Linked DNA regions of Homo sapiens: region 2 is linked to region 1. Evidence: fine-mapped expression QTL. A gene starts in region 1. The other region holds a variant in brackets. All regions are shown on one strand. Distances are from middle to middle.

Evidence for each region. PIP is the estimated chance that this variant, and not a neighbour inherited with it, causes the effect. A credible set is the group of variants that fine-mapping cannot tell apart.
Region 2: its variant is the best candidate, but not a certain one, in a credible set for the expression of ZDHHC20 in whole blood (TOPMed, PIP 0.53).

The regions. Positions count from the first base shown.
Region 1 is chr13:21,455,702-21,464,020 of GRCh38, forward strand. It overlaps ZDHHC20 (zDHHC palmitoyltransferase 20), which reads right to left and starts at 3,602. Exons shown (of 13, transcript NM_001330059.2): 1 at 3,353-3,602. The coding sequence starts at 3,470. It overlaps LOC124903131 (a long non-coding RNA gene), which reads left to right and starts at 3,846. Exons shown (of 2, transcript XR_007063713.1): 1 at 3,846-4,478; 2 at 4,682-4,945. RefSeq lists a silencer at 3,515-3,894, an enhancer at 3,758-3,927 and a cis regulatory region at 3,843.
Region 2 is chr13:21,429,164-21,437,504 of GRCh38, forward strand. The region is part of intron 1 of ZDHHC20 (zDHHC palmitoyltransferase 20); the gene reads right to left. Among named protein-coding and RNA genes, the nearest start is that of ZDHHC20, 26 kb to the right of the region's middle. The variant G/A (reference allele first, on the strand shown) is at 4,251.

The sequences.
Region 1 (8,319 bases):
GGTAAGATGGAATGAGGGCCTCTTGGTAATCAACAATTTGTTCAACTTACAGCCAACTGTGGGCCAGGTATTTTTATTGTCTGAGATATTTAGGAATCTTCTGCAGCTGCCTTTTAGGAGAAAAGTACTTTATATAAATATATCATATACAGGACTGAAATCTGCCCTGAGTGTCCAGATCTGGACACCAAATAGATTAGTCATTAATTGTATAGTGGTTAACAGCATGGGCTTTGGAGCCAAACCCCTTGAATTCCAATTCTTACCATGCTACTTACTGGCTCTATAACCGTGGACAAATTACTTAACCTTATGGGGATCATTATTAAGATTAAATGAATTAATACATACATGTAAAGATATAATTATGATCTTCTCCTCCTAGTTTGATAAAGAATACCAGAATCTAAGAATATCCTATAGGCCGGGCACAATGCCTCATGCCTGTAATCCCAGCACTTTGGGAGGCCAAGGTGGGTGGATTGCCTGAGGTCAGGAGTTTGAGACCAGCCTGACCAACAAGGTGAAACCCCCGTCTCTACTAAAAATACAAAAAAAATTAGCTGGGCATGGTGGCGGGCACCTGTAATCCCAGCTACTTGGGAGGCTGAGGCAGGAGAGTCACTTGAACCCAGGAGGCAGAGGTTGCAGTGAGCCAAGATCGCATCATTGCACTCCAGCCTGGGCAACAAGAGTGAAACTCTGGCTCAAAAAATACATATATAAATAAAAAGAATATCCTATAAAAGTATTAAAACAGCACTTTTAAGTAAAACTCACACTTCCCTCCATTTAAGTCCTCCTATAAAGTAATATATCTATACATATTTCAGTGGGAGGGTCAGTACTTATGAAAACAAATACATACAAGTAGTTTAAAGGATAGTTTTAATATGAGTAAATGCACTTTTATGCTCAACTATTTTATACTCCAGTGACACTGCAGACCTCCCAAATTCTCTCTAGTTAAAATGAGATAACTCAGAAGTTAATACAGCCTCTACATAAGACCTTTCACCACCAAATATTTTAAGATTCTGCCAAGCATCAGGCCATAGTTATAGAATGTTTTAACTTAATGAAATTGTAGGGTATAATCTCTACAGAATGGGCCTCAAGCCTAACTAAGTGATCTCCAAAAATATGCCAACCCCTTTATCCCCCCACACCATTATGGACCAAACAATTACAGTTCCATTGACCCTCATAGCTTACTGAAGTTATATGAAAGAACGGAAAGATGTGGGTCACATTCCAATAATCAATTGTGTGACCTAACCAAAAGGACCTATTCGCTCAGTCTCACGTCCTCCACCTGTAGAGATACCTATGCTGTGACATACTGAAAGAATTAAAGGAGAGGGTGAATGAAATGTCCCCTCTATGCCCACTAGCACATGGCACTTCTCAATTCATGTTCATTTCTCCTTCTTTATTTGAAGTGGTGAAAGAAATCAGAAGCAATTTAAGACTTTTCACAGCACTGTTTGATCTCATTTCTTAATATTTTTGACAAAAACCATCTACAGGTTAAGCTGTGGAATCTCAACATAAATGCACATTTTTAGTGTTCCTTCAGCTTTACTTCAAAACCACTACGGGAATTAAAATACGGTAGGAATAATCTTCTGACAGAATAGGAATGACATAACTTTTAGAATAAATGCCCACTTCAGAGTAAATAAGAAGATAAAGGAGGTATCATCATAAGTTGATGAGAATCCTATGATCACTACCACTTTCTGGAAGTAGCTCCCAGAAATATTAAAATCTAGTAATTTTAATTGACTCAAACATCATTTTTAGTAAACATTCTGGTATCCAAAAGCATGAGACTAAACAATGATATTGAAAAGATTAATATTATTTGGAAATGTATTCCACAACTAATTTATTCTGGGCCTACCTGCAGGGATAGTCGTCCCAAAATTAAACGTTCTATAGGTACAAAGTAATTTTAAAACTGGATGTTTTAATTTCAAAACTTATAAATTTTCTGAGCCAAAGCATTCTCTTCCATGTATAGAACTAGGGTTTTAACCAAATACTTGGTTGAAAGCTGTACAAATCCAAACATAATTGAAGTCTTGATTCTGCCACTTTCAAGAGTGGGTGGTACAGATTCTTCTCATTCATAACATTAGTTTCTAGCTGATGTGGTTCGTTATTCAAAGAACACTTAACAGTCCTTCATAAAATGGTAGATTCAGTCTAAGGACTAAGAGTAGAACATTCTGGAATAACAATAACGTTTACAAACACCACTTACCATTTGGTCCTAGGTTTTCATAAAAAATTGATATAGGCAGCAGATGTATACAGAACACCCTAGTTGAGGCCAGTTTAAGTGTAAAATACCCACATACTCAAAGCCTAAGAACAATTTACTTAAGACAAAACAATGTTGGAGAAATTGCCCAATATCACAAATGTAGCAGTCACCCCTAAACAGTGTTTTTGATTAATGACAACCAATTTCCTTCAATCTTAAAGGCAACCAATTCAAGCCAGTAGGTTAAATCCTTGAAGTATACTGCAATGCTACTCCTTTTTTCCAGGGAATCAGATGAGAATTTTGTGCTAAGAACTTATCAGGAAAATGGAAGTAACGAAAATTAACACGCCAAAATATGAGTATAAGAAATATAAGCCTCCTTAATAATCAGCCAAGAAAAAAATAATCAGGTTATGTCTCCTCCCACCCATTCTTTCTGTCTTAACCTTCTGCAAAAGCCGGCTGGATTCAGAGTAGAAATAAACGAATTTTACAATGAGTCGAGTACCACCAAAAATCAAAAGTGGGAGCTTACTCGTCCTCCAGGTCTGACCCGCCTCCAGCCCGAGGCCACCAAAAGACACACCTCCCTTCCCCCAACCCGCCACAGCCGGCTCTACAGGTAACAGGCGTTTCTTCTCGCGCAGTTTGAACAAAAACAATCCAGAAGGAACAGATTTGGTTTTTTAAAAAAAATGAACAAAAGCCAAAAAAGCCACAAACACAACCTAAACCTTCTAAGAAGCTCGACTACTCCCGTTCTGCACGTTCCTTCCCAGAAGGATGCAGACCCCCGGTGTCGGCGGGAACCAGGAAGCTCTTGGGGCCTCCCTGGGCCAGACCTGCACCCGGGAAGCCGCCGCAAGGCTTCAGGAGCCCCAGGTCGCCCCAAGGCCGCGCCGCAGGATTGAACAAAGCGGCGGGTGCAGCAACCTCGGCGCTTCCGAGCGCGTTCGGGGCCGGACGCCCGGCGTCCGGCGCTGGCTCCAGAAAGGCGGCGGGTGTGGGGCGCAGAGGCCTATCTCGCGCCCTAGCCGCGGCCCGCGCCCCGCCGCAGTCCCCGGGGACGGTACTCACACACGCAGAGCTCCACCACGTACGCGTAGTAGGACCAGACGACCACGAAGGTGATGAAGAGCACCGGCACCCAGCCCACGACGCGCTGGCAGCAGCGCCACAGCGTCCAGGGCGCCATGTTCCGCTGGCGGCTGCCGAGCCCCGCGTCCCACCGTTCTGGGGAGCGCGGGAGCCCCGGCGACGGTGACTCGGACGCTCCAGGCGGCTGCTGGTCCAGCTCCCCCGCCTCCGAGGCAGGACTTGTGGGAGCAAAAGTCCGAGGCGCCGCCGGGACTCCTCCCGTCCCGGCGCCCAGCCAGGCCCCGCCCCCACCCCACATCCCGTCGCCCCCCTCCCCCCGCGTCCGTCCCCGCCAGCCCGCCCGCCGCGGGCCGCGGGCCGCCCCCGGTCTCCGCGTCGTTGGGGCGGGGTTTCCGCGGCCGGGGAGGCGGTGAGGGGGCGGGGCCGCAGCTCGGGACCGCCCATGGGGCGTGGCGGGGCTGGATGCGGACAGGCTGGGCGGACGCGGGAGGCCGGGGAAGGAGAGGCGAAAAACACGCCCTTGATGGATGAGAGGGACAGGGGATAGCTTTTGTGGATCGAGACTCAATAGGGGAGGGAGACTATGGAAATGATTCCTTAGCTGATTTGTGGATCTTGGCCCTCTCTGTGTACAGAACTCGCTCCACTGGGGTTCCTGGGACATTGAGTAGTTGGGGCACTGTTTCAAACATGACAAGGCCATTCCCCACTCAGTGTGCGAAGAATGCACATTGTTAGAAGGCTCCTCCTGTGATTTTTATGTTCGTCCATCTTGGCGGAACCCCTCCCTTTCTTGAAGATGGAACGGTAGATACCTGTAATTTCGGGTAGAAGCCATGTAGGGTCCATCAGTTTGATTCGTAACCCAAATTTAAGATTGAGTAGCGAGAAGGAAAGGGCATGTAAATGACCCTCTCCTTGCCCCGCAAACGACTAAGGAAATTTAAAGAATTTATTTACAACTAGAGGTTGCTAAGCAATGACGATAATCATATAGAACCCAGAAGCATCACTGTGAAGACTTCACAATGCAAGGTCAGACGCATTAGAAGGGATTCCAGACCGCAATCTTCATACCAGTTCCTGCTACTAGCATTCAGTTTTGGTTAGAATGAATTTTTGTGTTTGTTTTTTGAAACAGGGTCTTCTCGCTCTGTCGCCCAAGCTGGAGTGCAGTGGCACGACCTGGGCTCATTTAAGCCTCGACCTCCCTGCTAAAGCACTCCTCCTGCTTCAGCCTGCAGAGTAGCAGGGACTACAGGCCCGCCACCATGCCCAGCTGATGTTTGTATTTTCTGTAAAAACTAGGTTTCGCCCTGTTGCCATGCTGGCCCTGAACTCCAAGGCTCAAGGAATCCCAACCCCTCTCCGCCTCCACCTCCCAAAGAAGTGCTGAGATTACAGGTGTGAGCCACCACGACCGGCCTACACTGAGCTTTAAATTAGCTACTGCTCACTAAAGTCTCCATGAAGAAGACGTCACCCTTTGCTGTGTCAGAGAAATGTAGTAAAAGCGAGTAAGTATTTAATCACTGCACACTGCTGCTTGAGTAATAAAGCATGTATAAAAGATTCTGTTCTCCCTGATTTTGTGCCTTAAAAGTCATATTAGTTAGTGGCCTAGTTGACAGTAGGTTTAGGTTCAAGTTCAACTAGTTTTCCAGAGAGGCTGCTTAGGAGGGTTAGACCTCAACATAGAATTCGGATGGACATGGAAGAACATAAAGCCGTTTCTCCTCTATGTCATCTCTACGTACCAAAACCATGCTGCTAGAGCTCAGCACAAAGCCATGTCCTTTACAAGCTCCAGGGCTGCTAGAAATGATCTTTCACGACATTTTGTTTATAACCTAACTATAAAACTGTCACATTCGTTTCCTAGGGTGACTATAACAAAGTACCACAAAACTGGGGAATAATAGAAATTGGTTGTCTCACAGTTTAGGAGGGTAGGTGTCCCAAATCAAAGTGTTGGCAAGGATATTGGATATGGTTTGGATGTTTGTCCCCTCCAAATCCCATGTTGAAATGTGATCCCAGTGTTGGAGGTGGGACCTGGTGGGAGGTATTGGATCATTAGGGTGGATCCCTCATGAATGGTTTAGTGCCATCCCCTTGGATGAGGGGTTCTTTCTCTAGTAGTTCACATGAGATCTGGTTATTTAAAAGAGCCTGATCCTTCCCCCACTCTCTCTCTTGCCCCCTCTCTTGCCATGTGACATGCTGGCTCCCCTTTGCCTTCTGCCGAGAAGGCAGAAGTCTATCTCTGTGGTCCTGTGTCTTCAGAGATAAGGATGTTCCTTTGTCTGGGTAGAGGGAGGGCACCTCTTGAATAACAGTCTTAGGTCTGCCTTCAGGGGAAGGCCTGAGACGCTTTTGCTAGTGCTATGGCCTGCTTCAGGGGAGAAGAGCGAGAGGAAGGTGAGAGGGACCTTCCTGTTGCTGTTGTCTCCAATGTTGTCTCCAACTGATGATTGGAAGCTTCTTGAGGCCTCACCAGAAGCATATGCTGACCCCATACTTTCTGTACAGCCTGGAGAGCTGTGGGCCAATTAATCCACTTTTCTTTATAAATTACCCAGTCTCAGGTATTCCTTTATATCAGTGCAAGAATGACCTAACACAGCCATGTGCCCTCTGAAACTTGTAGGGGAGAATTCTTCTTTGCTTCTTCCTAGCCTTTGGTGGTGACCATTAGTCCATGGCATCCCTTGACCTGCAGTGGCAGTGGCATCACCCCAATATCTACCGCTATCCTCAGGTGGCATTCTCCTTTCCTGTCTCTCCCCTTATATTGGGTTAAGGGCCTACCCTACTCTAGTATGGCCTCATCTTAACTAATTACATCTACAACAGGCCCACTTCCAAATAAGGCCACATTCTTTTTTTTTTTTTTTTCAGTAGAGTCTTGCTCTGTCACCCAGGTTGGAGTGCGGTCACGTGATCTTGGCTCACTGCAACCTCCACCTCCCAGCTTCAAGTGATTCTCATGCCTCAGCCTCCCGAGTAGCTGGGATTACAGGCGTGCACCACCACGTGAGGCCTGCATTTTGTATTTTTGCTAGAGATGGGGTTTCCCCATGTTGGCCAGGCTGGTCTCAAACTTTTGGAGTCAAGTGATTTGCCTGCCTCGGCCTTCCAAAGTGCTGGGATTACAGGCCTAAGCCACCTCGCTCAGCCAATAGTTTTGATACTCATTGAAATATGTGATCTTGCCTACTACCTTGTAAGGTTCTAGAAGGTAGAAAGTATTTCTTGCACATCCACAGTGACTTGCAGTAGGAAATATTTAGTAAGAAATTGTTGAACAAATATTTAAAGTTTTCTATTGTTATCCAGTTACTCCTCCTAACTTCTGGCGTTGCCAACCAGATTACATTAGCTTGTGATTTCTTTTTTTTCTTTTTCTTTTTTTTTTTTTTGAGACAGAGTCTTGCTGTGTTGCCAGGCTGGAGTGCAGTGGTGCAATCTCAGCTCCCTGCAACCTCCGACTCCCTGGTTCAAGCGATTCTCCTGCCTCAGCCTCCCCAGTAGCTGGGATTACAGGCACACACAACCACGCCCAGCTAATTTTTTGTATTTTTTGTGAGCCACCGTGCCCGACCAGTTTCTGATTTCTAAATGACTGCCACATATTCTAAGGTGATTTATGTGGGATCTAGAGAATATTTCTGATCTATGTCCTTGTACAATGAGGACAGACACATTTTTGAGGAGGCAATATTTTTATTATTTTGGACTCTTTCTGTCGTAAATGGTTACAGACATGAATTAATGTTCTTTGCTTGTGAGCAATAGAAGCCAGTATCTTAAACCCCTTCCTTCCATTTCCATGTTGGGCTTGTGATTTCACTCCATCTTTGCTACTGGTTTTGACAACAGGGAATCATTTAAAGACTTTAGGCAGTGTAGTGACGTGAGCAGAATTACATTTTATAACAATCACTCTGGCTGTGGTAAGAAGAACAGATTGGAGGGAGGAAAGTCTAGAGGCAAGGAAACCAGTTGGGAGGCCGTTGCAGTCGTAGAGCAAGAGATGATGCTAGCCTGACCTTGATTTGTGGCAGTGGAGAAGGTAATAAGAAAGCTACTTAGGGCTGGGTGCGATGGCTCACGCCTGTGGGCCCAGCACTTTGGGAGGCCACAGTGGGCAGATCACCAGGTCAGGAATTTGAGACCAGCCTGTCCAACATGGTAAAACCCCATCTCTACTAAAAATACAAAAAAAAAAAAAAAAAATTAGCTGGGCATGGTGGCGGGGCGCCTGTAATCCCAGCTGCTCCGTAGGCTGAGGCAGGAGAATTGCTTGAGCCTGGGAGGTGGAAGTTGCAGTGAGCTGGGATCACGCCATTGCACTCCAACCTGGGCAACAGAGCAAGACTCTCTCCAAAAAAAAACAAGGAAGCTACTTAGGACTTCAGGCCAGCTTTGATGTACCCACTGTACTCCAAAACATAGCAATGGTAGATAGAAAACAAAAGACAAAGTCAGCCTCAAACCCTCATCCCCAACCTCTATCCCTTTCCATTCTCTAACAAAAGAGAATTGTGCTGATTGATCTCTAGGATAATGGCTTTTCATGGAGACTGGAGGACACCATGCAGCTCCCCAACCTGGAAGTAAACCAAGCTGCCAACTAGCCTGGGGACTAGATCTGTGGTTTCCCCATTATAACCACCATCCAGGAACCTGAAAATACCATTTTAAATTCTAGTTCTGGACTGAGAGCTGGGGAAGAATGAGGGCAAGTAGAGGCAGCTATGAAACGATTAGACGGGGTTTATGGAAACCATGTACATATAAATGTGGAAAGAGTGAAGAAGAAAATACAAACAATTCACTAGTTCAAAATTAAACCACAATTTTAAAACACATGAAGAGATCTAATACTGAAAAAGGATGCAAATAAAAATCAACAATCAGAACTAGAGTTCACTCAAAATAAA
Region 2 (8,341 bases), 27 kb before region 1:
TGGGATCCAGTTCTTGCAAATGGATACATCTTGAGGGAGGGAAAAACTGTCACTGGGAAAAAATTTTTTTGCCCTCCTTAACAAGTGAGAAGCACGTGAGAAAGAAGCTCTATTATTTCCTTTATCCTGTTTTTGCTTTGAATTCTTATAATGTGAGGATGTGCTATCTGAATGTACAACTGTCAACTTTCAACCTTGATGGGCCAGTTATATGCTGGATATAGAATTCTGGGTTGACAGTTCTTTTCATTCAGTACTTTAAATATGTACTACTTCCTTCTAAATTCCACGGTTTCTGATGACAAATCTGCTGTTATTCTGTTTTTCCCCTATAGGTAAAGTGTCCTCACTGTTTTCAAGATTTTATATTTAGTGGTCAGAAATTTGGTTATAATGTATGTTGGAGTGGATTTCTTTGGGATTTTCCTGTTCAGAGTTTGCTGAACTTCTTAAGTTCTTCTTGAATATGTCCTTCGCCAAGTTTGAAAATTTTAAGCTATCATTTCTTTGAATACCTTTTCAACCATATCGTCTTTCTTCTCCCCTGGGACTCTGATGGTACAAATATTAGAACTTTTAAAAATAGTCCCACAAGTCCCTGATGATTTGTTCATTTTTATTTTTCAGTATATTTTCTCTCTTTTGTTCAGATTGGGTAATTTCTAATGTTTTATCTTCAAGTTCATTCACTTCACTTTTTTTCTCTGCCCTCTCCATTCTGCTGTTCAGTTGACTTTTTAAAATTTTGGCTATTGTATTTTCAGTTTAAAAATCTCCATCTGGTTCTTTACATCTTCTATTTCTTTGTTGAGAATTCTATTTTTTCATAATTCAATAGCAAATTGAATCACTTTAAAGATAGCTGCATTAAAGTCCTTGTCAAGTAATTCCAACATCTGTGTCTTTTTGGTTTTAGTATCTATTCTCTTTTCTCATTTAGTTTTCCTGGTTCTTGGTAGGATGGATGGTTTTCAATTGTATCCTGAAATGTTTTAGTATTATGCTGAGACTCTAGATCTTATTTAAATTTGTTTTTGCAGGCCTCGTCTGACTCCGTGCAGTGAGAGATGTGGGAGCACCACCTTGTTGCCATCAGGTGGGAGTCCAAGTCCCAGCTCCCTGCTAGGCTTCTGCACACATATCTTGGCTGGGAAGGGTAGAGGTGCCTCCTTAGTGCTTCCCAGATAGCCTCCATTGACACCATGAGAGGGAACTTGTTACTGTTTGGGGTGGGGGGATGGAAGGGACACATCATTACTGCCCAGTGGGAATGAAAATCTAGGCTCCTGACTAGGGCTTCACCTTTTCTGATACTATCCCAGCAGGAATACTGGGGAAGAGACACAGGAGGGGGGTCTTGTTACAGCTGGGCAAGCAGGAGAGGTCTTAAGCTCAATACTCAGTCTTTGCTGGTGAGAGTGGGGGATGGAGCACAGTTTGTCTATTGTTTTTGGCTAGAGTAGGGCAGTTATTGTCTACAAGTTTTCTGTCTTACTAGGTTGTCCCTTTCCTGGCTTGACTAATAAAACTGGTCTTTTCTAGGGTTTGTTTTGGTCTGTATTCATTGGTGTTTCCAGGTTGACAGCTTCTCTAGCACATATATGAAGAAAAAAAAAATCTAGGGAACACACCACCATGTTATTCCTCAGGTCGCAAGGTCCCTAGCTGATCTGGCTTCTTCTTGATACCTTTCAGAGTCTCCTCAGGTTTGTTTTCTGCACACTTTCCATGGATTTTAGCTGTACTTACTAAGAAAAGGAAGAAGTCTCTATTTCATCTTGTCTCAGAACTGGAAGTCCCTGCTTGTCCTTTTACTGCCGAATAGCATTCTGTTATATGGAGGTATGACAACTTTATCCATTAATCAGTTCATAGGCATTTGAGTGATTTCACCTTTTTGTCTATTATGATTACTCGTGTATTCACCAAGCCTTTGGGTGGACATAATATTTTTGTATTAGTCCATTTTCACGCTGGTGATAAAGACATACCCAAGACTAGGAAGAAAAAGAGGTTTAATTGGACTCACAGTTCCACATGGCTGGGGAGGCCTCAGAATTATGGCTGGAGGCAAAAAGGCACTTTTTACACAGTGGAGGCAAGAGAAAATGAGGATGCAAAAGCAGAAACCCCTGATAAAACCATCAGATCTCTCTTGAGACTCATTCACTACCACGAGAACAGTATGGGGGAAACCACCCCCATGATTCAAATTATATCCCACTGGGTCCCTCCCACAACACAGGGGAAATTACAGGAGTACAACTGAAGATGAGATATGGATGGGGACACAGCCAAACAATATCAATTTTCATTACTTAATATCTAAAAATGGGATTGCTGGGTCTAATGTTAAATATGTGCTTAACTTTACCAGTAACAGCCAAACTGTTTTCAAAGTGGCTGTATTTGGCACAAAGTGTTTGGCACTTCCACTTACAATGGATCAGAGTTATAGTTGCTCCACATCCTCACCAATACTTAGAATTGACAGTTTTTAAAATTTAGCTGTTCTAAAAAATATGCAGTGGTATCTTCATTTCACTTTTGTGTTTTTCTAATAACTACAGCATCTTTTCATGTGTTTAACAATCACTATCCCTTATTTGTGAAGTTATATGTTCAATGGTGCCCCTCTTTTAACTGTATTGCTTATTGAGTCATGAGTTCTTCATATATTCTGGATACAAATCTTGATATGTGTGTGCCAATATTTTCTCCTAGGCCATAACTTGCCTCTTTATATTTTTAACAGTGTCTTTTGAAGAGCACAAACTCTTAATTTTGATGAAGTCTTAATTTAATTTATCAATTTTTTTCTTTTATCATTCATGCCTGGGAAATCTTTGCCAACCTATGAAAGTCACAGTTTCTCATATGTTTTCTTCTGGAAGTTTTATAGGTTTTATATTTAGGTCTGTAATATATTTCATTTTCATTTTATATCATTTCATATTTTTTATTATTTTTGAGACAGAGTCTTGCTCTCATTTTATTTCATATTTTATTTTATTATTTTTCAGACAGAATCTCGCTCTGTCGCCCAGGCTGGAGTGCAGTGGTGCGATTTCAGCTCACTAAAACCTCCGCTTCCTGGTTCAAGCCATTTTCCTGCCTCAGCCTCCCAAGTAGCTGGGACTAAAGGCATGCACCACAGTGTCCCACTAATTTTTTTTTTTTTTTTGAGACAGAGTCTCGCTCTGTAGCCCAGGCTGGTGTGCAGTGGCGTGATCTCGGCTCACTACAAGCTCTGCCTCCTGGGTTCACACCATTCTCCTGCCTCAGCCTCCTGAGTAGCTGGGACTGCAGGCGCCCACCACCATGCCTGACTAATTTTTTTTGTGTTTTTTAGTAGAGATGGGGTTTCACCATGTTAGCCAAGGTGGTCTGGATCTCCTGACCTCGTGATCCACCTGCCTCGGCCTCCCAAAGTGCTGGGATTACAGGCATGAGACATCTCTCCTGGACAACTTTTTTGTATTTTTAATAAAGATAGGGTTTCACCATGTTGGCCAGGCTTGTCTTGAACTCCTGACCTCAACTGATCCGCCTACCATGGCCTCCCAAAGTGCTGGGATTACAGGTGTGACCCACCATGCCCCCCCATGTAATCCATTTTAAAAAGTTGATACTTTGTATATGGTACAGGTAAAGGTTGAGGTTAATTTTTTTACATATGAATGGTGAATAGTTCTTACAGTGTTAGTTGAAATAACTATTTGTTCTTCATTAAATTAACCTGGAATTTTCTTATGGGAATCAACTGACTATACGTGTAAGGGTTTATTTCTGAACTCTATTTTGTTCCACTGGTCTATATGTCCATTCTTACTCAGATACTACAGTCTTGATTACATATAGCTTTCAGTAAATCTTGAAATCAGATAGTATGGGTCCTCCAACTTATTATTTTTCAAAAGTATTTTGGCTATTTTAGGTTTGCATTTCCATATAAATACTTACTTATTTTTACCTTTTTTAGAGACAGGATTTTGCTGTATTGCCCAGGCTTGTCTCAAACTCCTGGGCTCAAGCAGTCTGTCTGTCTCAGCCTCCCAAGTAGCTAGGACTATAGGCCTCCTGAGTAGCTAGACAGCTTGCATGCCATTGTGTCTGGCCCATGTAAATTTTAAACTCATCTTATTGATTTCCTTAAAAAAATACTCAAACAAGGCCAGGCATGGTGGCTCATGCCTGTAATCCCAGCACTTTGGGAGGCTGAGGCGGGCGGATCATGAGGTCAGGAGATC[G/A]AGACCATCCTGGCTAACACAGTAAAACTCCATCTCTACTAAAAATACAAAAAATTAGCCGGGCGTGGTGGCGGGTGCCTGTAGTCCCAGCTACTCAGGAGGGTGAGGTAGGAGAATGGCGTGAACCCAGAAGGCGGAGCTTGCAGTGAGCCGAGATCACTCCACTGCACTCCAGCCTGGGTGACAGAGCAAGACTCCATCTGGTGGGGGTGGGAGGCGGGAATTCACAAACAAAAATCTGCCTGGTTTTGTTTTTTGTTTGTTTGTTCTGGGAGATCCAGTGCTGGCTGATGCCTGGATTTTGACTGGCTGAACTTACAGATCAACTTGGGGAGAAGTAATGTCTTTGAAATATTGTCTTACAGCCCATGACCATGGCGTAGCTCTCCATTTTAGATTTTCTCTATCACACAGAATCTTGCACATATTTTATTAGACTTATCCCTAAAATATTTCATGTTTTTGATGCTATTATAAACAGCATTTCTAAAAATTCCAATTTTAATTACTCATTGCTATAGAATAGTATTTAGAAATATGTTTTAGTTTTTTTATTGACCTTGTATGCTGGCTCAATTCACTTTTCGGTTCTAGTAGCTTGTTTGCAGTTTCTTTGGGATTTTCTACATAAATGACTAGTCTGGTAATCAACAGGGTTTGTTTTCCTTTCCTACGTGTGTGTGTGTGTGTGTCTGTGTGTCTGTGTGTGTGCGTGCACACCATTTTAAAAGGAAGATTAAATACCTGATAAGTTGATACCGATATTTCCAATTAAAATTAAAGTCTACAGGGTTTTTACTTAACATCTTCTATCTCACATTTGTATCTCCTTTTTCCATTGAGAATTCTGGTTCTCAAGGACACAAGGGATGAAGAATTAGAATACCCCATATTGCTTACCCAATAATCTCGAGATAATGACAATAACACTGCCAGTAATATGATTACTTAAAAGTTTGAATAATTTTTTCATATATTCTCTCTCCATTCTCTAGTAGTTGTGCTGAATCAAAATTGTTAAAGCATATAGTATCCATTACAAACATTATTCCTCATTTAGTCTTAGTCTTGGGTCCACAAGAAAATAAATATTTAATGTTCATATTAGAGTTTAATTTGTATCTCTGCAGTCAATTTGGTTGTCTGAAGCTCATTGTCATTCTCTAGCAAACTAGTTTTGCTACAGATACTGTTCATGTTCTGTTTTTATGCAGTGATTTGGAGTGACTCAAAAATAATGTACTATTACCACCATCTTCCCTAAATCCATATGATGATGACTTTTTGAAAAGATCAGGCCAGATGTCTTGTGAAATGTCCTACAAATTCTAGAAATCGCTACCCATTAGCACACAGAGACATCCTTTTTTTTTTTTTAAAGCATTGCACAATATTCCGTTGTGTGGATATTCCAGTTATACAATCAGCCTTCTATTGATGGGCATCTGTGTTGTCGCCAATCCTTTGCCACTACAATGTTGCAATAAATAACCTTGTGCATGTGTTGTTTATTTGTGGAAGTTTATCTTCAGTGTAGATTCCTAACAGTGGGATTACTGAACCAAAAGTAAATCTGTCCACCATGTCTTTAGCTTTTTGCAAAAACCCTTTTATACGGGTTGTACCATTTTATACTTCTACCAGCAATGAATGAAACTGACTGTTTCTCTGCAGTCTACTCAATGAAGTTTTCAATCTTTTGGTATGGCAGGATAATTTTACCTCGTATTTATCTTATAAGTGAGGGTCAGTATCTTTTCTTATGCTTATGTGTCATTTTCATTTTTTTTTTCCTGTGAAACATCTGCTTACTTTTTTGTTTGTTTGTTTTTTCTATTGTGCTTGGTGATTCTGAGATGTTAGAGGCTTTCCTCATTGCCTTAAGATCATCCACCCATATTTTCTTCTAATGCTTGAATGTTTCCATTTTTTATATTCATTCTTGGTCCCTGTTGAAATGACCAATTCCAGGGGCAGGAAAAGTATCAAACAATGCTGAAATATATTGCCAGAAAGAAAGGAAGTACTAAAAAAACAATAAGGACACATCAAAGCACACAGAAACAAGATGGAAACTGGCTCCTACTGGCCAAATCTGGGACAAATTGAACAATAAAATACGTGTTAGATTATAATTCACAAAATAGAATTTGCCGGTGCATGCTGATATATGTGAGTGAATCAATAAATAAGTAAATGGGAGAAGGATAATCTCTTCCATACAGTAGAATTCTAACTAGTAAATGTAGAAGAAATCATGGAATTAGAAAACCACCATTTGGCAACCAGGACAGTAATAACTGTTTCAAGCAAGAATTCTCAATAGATGCTAAAAGGAGTAAGTGAAAGTAATAACAAACAGATTATTCACAGGGTTTCAAAATGTCTCCCAATAAGAAATGACTCAGGTTGGGTTCTCTGGAATCAGATGCTAAGACAGAGTTTGGGGTGCAATGTATTTACTAGGGACCAGCATATGTGAAAGGAAGGGGGAAGAGGTATAATTGGGCTAAGGGAGCAATCTCACTGCAATATAGTCCTGGCTTCAGCAACCGGCAGGGAGCTCTGAAGTGGGCAGTTCCACCCCATCTCACTCAGGCATTGTGTGCAAGCTGCACCAGGAAGGGTGTGACCTTGGGTGATATGAGTCATGCAGAAAGTGCTGGAAGCTATCTGCTGACTGCACTGACCAAAACTGAGCAACAAGTCCTTCCTCAAAAAGGAATCCGTGTGATGTGGTGGTCTAATAGAATATTAATTACAAAGAAAAACTGTACCTTTATAGAATGGAGAAACATAGCACACACTACCTTGGGTGTTGATCAACATTAATGGTCCCCAAAATGTTATAATGACACAGCATTACTTCTGTGACATTCTTGCTGAAAATACATATAGGCACATCTCATAAGGTGCTTTGATTTATTGTGCTTTGCAGACATTATGTTTTTTACAAATCGAAGGTTGTGGCAACCCTGCATTAAGCAAGTCTATCTGTGCTATTTTTCCAACACTTTGTGCTCACTTTGTGTCTCCGTGTCACATTTTGGTTAATTCTCACAGTATTTCAACCTTTTTCATTATCATAATATCTGCTCTGGTGCTCTGTGATCAGTGATCTGTGACGTTACTATTGTAATTGTTTTGGAGTACCACCAACTGCATCCATATACGATGGAAAACTTAATAAATGTGGTGTTTCTACCACTCCACTGACCAGACATTCCTCTATCTCTCTCCGTCTCCTTGGGCCTCCCTATTTCCGGAGACACAACAATACTGCAATCAAGCCAATTAATAATCCTACAATGGCCTCTAAGTGTTCAGGTGAAAGGAAGAGTCACACACCTGTCACTTTAGATCAACAGCTAGAAATGACTAAGCTTAGTGAGAAAGACATGTTAAAAACCAAGACAGGATAAACGCTAGGCCTCTTGGGCCAAAGTTAGCCAAGTTGTGAATGCCAAGGAAAAGTTCTTGAAGAAAATTAAAAGTACTACTCCAGTGGAGTGGCACTAACTTTGGCCCACGTTGTGTACGTGTACCCTAGAACTTAAAGTATAATAAAAAAAATTAATTTTAAAAAAAGTACTACTCCAGTGAATAGATGAATAAGAAAGTGCAATGAGGCTGATACAAAAAAAGTTTGAGTTTTCTAGACAGAGAGCCAAACCAGCCACAAACATTCCCTTAAGCCAAAGCCTAACTCAGAGCAAAGTCCTAACTCTCTTTAATTTTGTGAAGGCTGAGAGAGATGAGAAAGCTGCAGGAAAAAAGTCTTAAGCTAGCAGAAGTTGATTTATGAGGTTTAAGGAAATAAGCCATCTCCATAACACAAAAGTACAGGACGAAGCAGCAAGTTTTTATGTAAAAGCTGCAGCAAGTTATTCAGAAGATCTAGCTGAGATAATTGATGAAGGTAGCTATATTAGTCCATTTTCACACTGTGAAATTTGGGTGGGGACACAGAGCCACGCCATATCAGTGGCTACACTAAATAACAGATGCTCGCTGCAGATGAAACAGTCTTTTATTGGAAGAAGAGGTCACCTAGAACTTTCCTAGCCAGAGAGAGGAAGTCAATGTCCAGC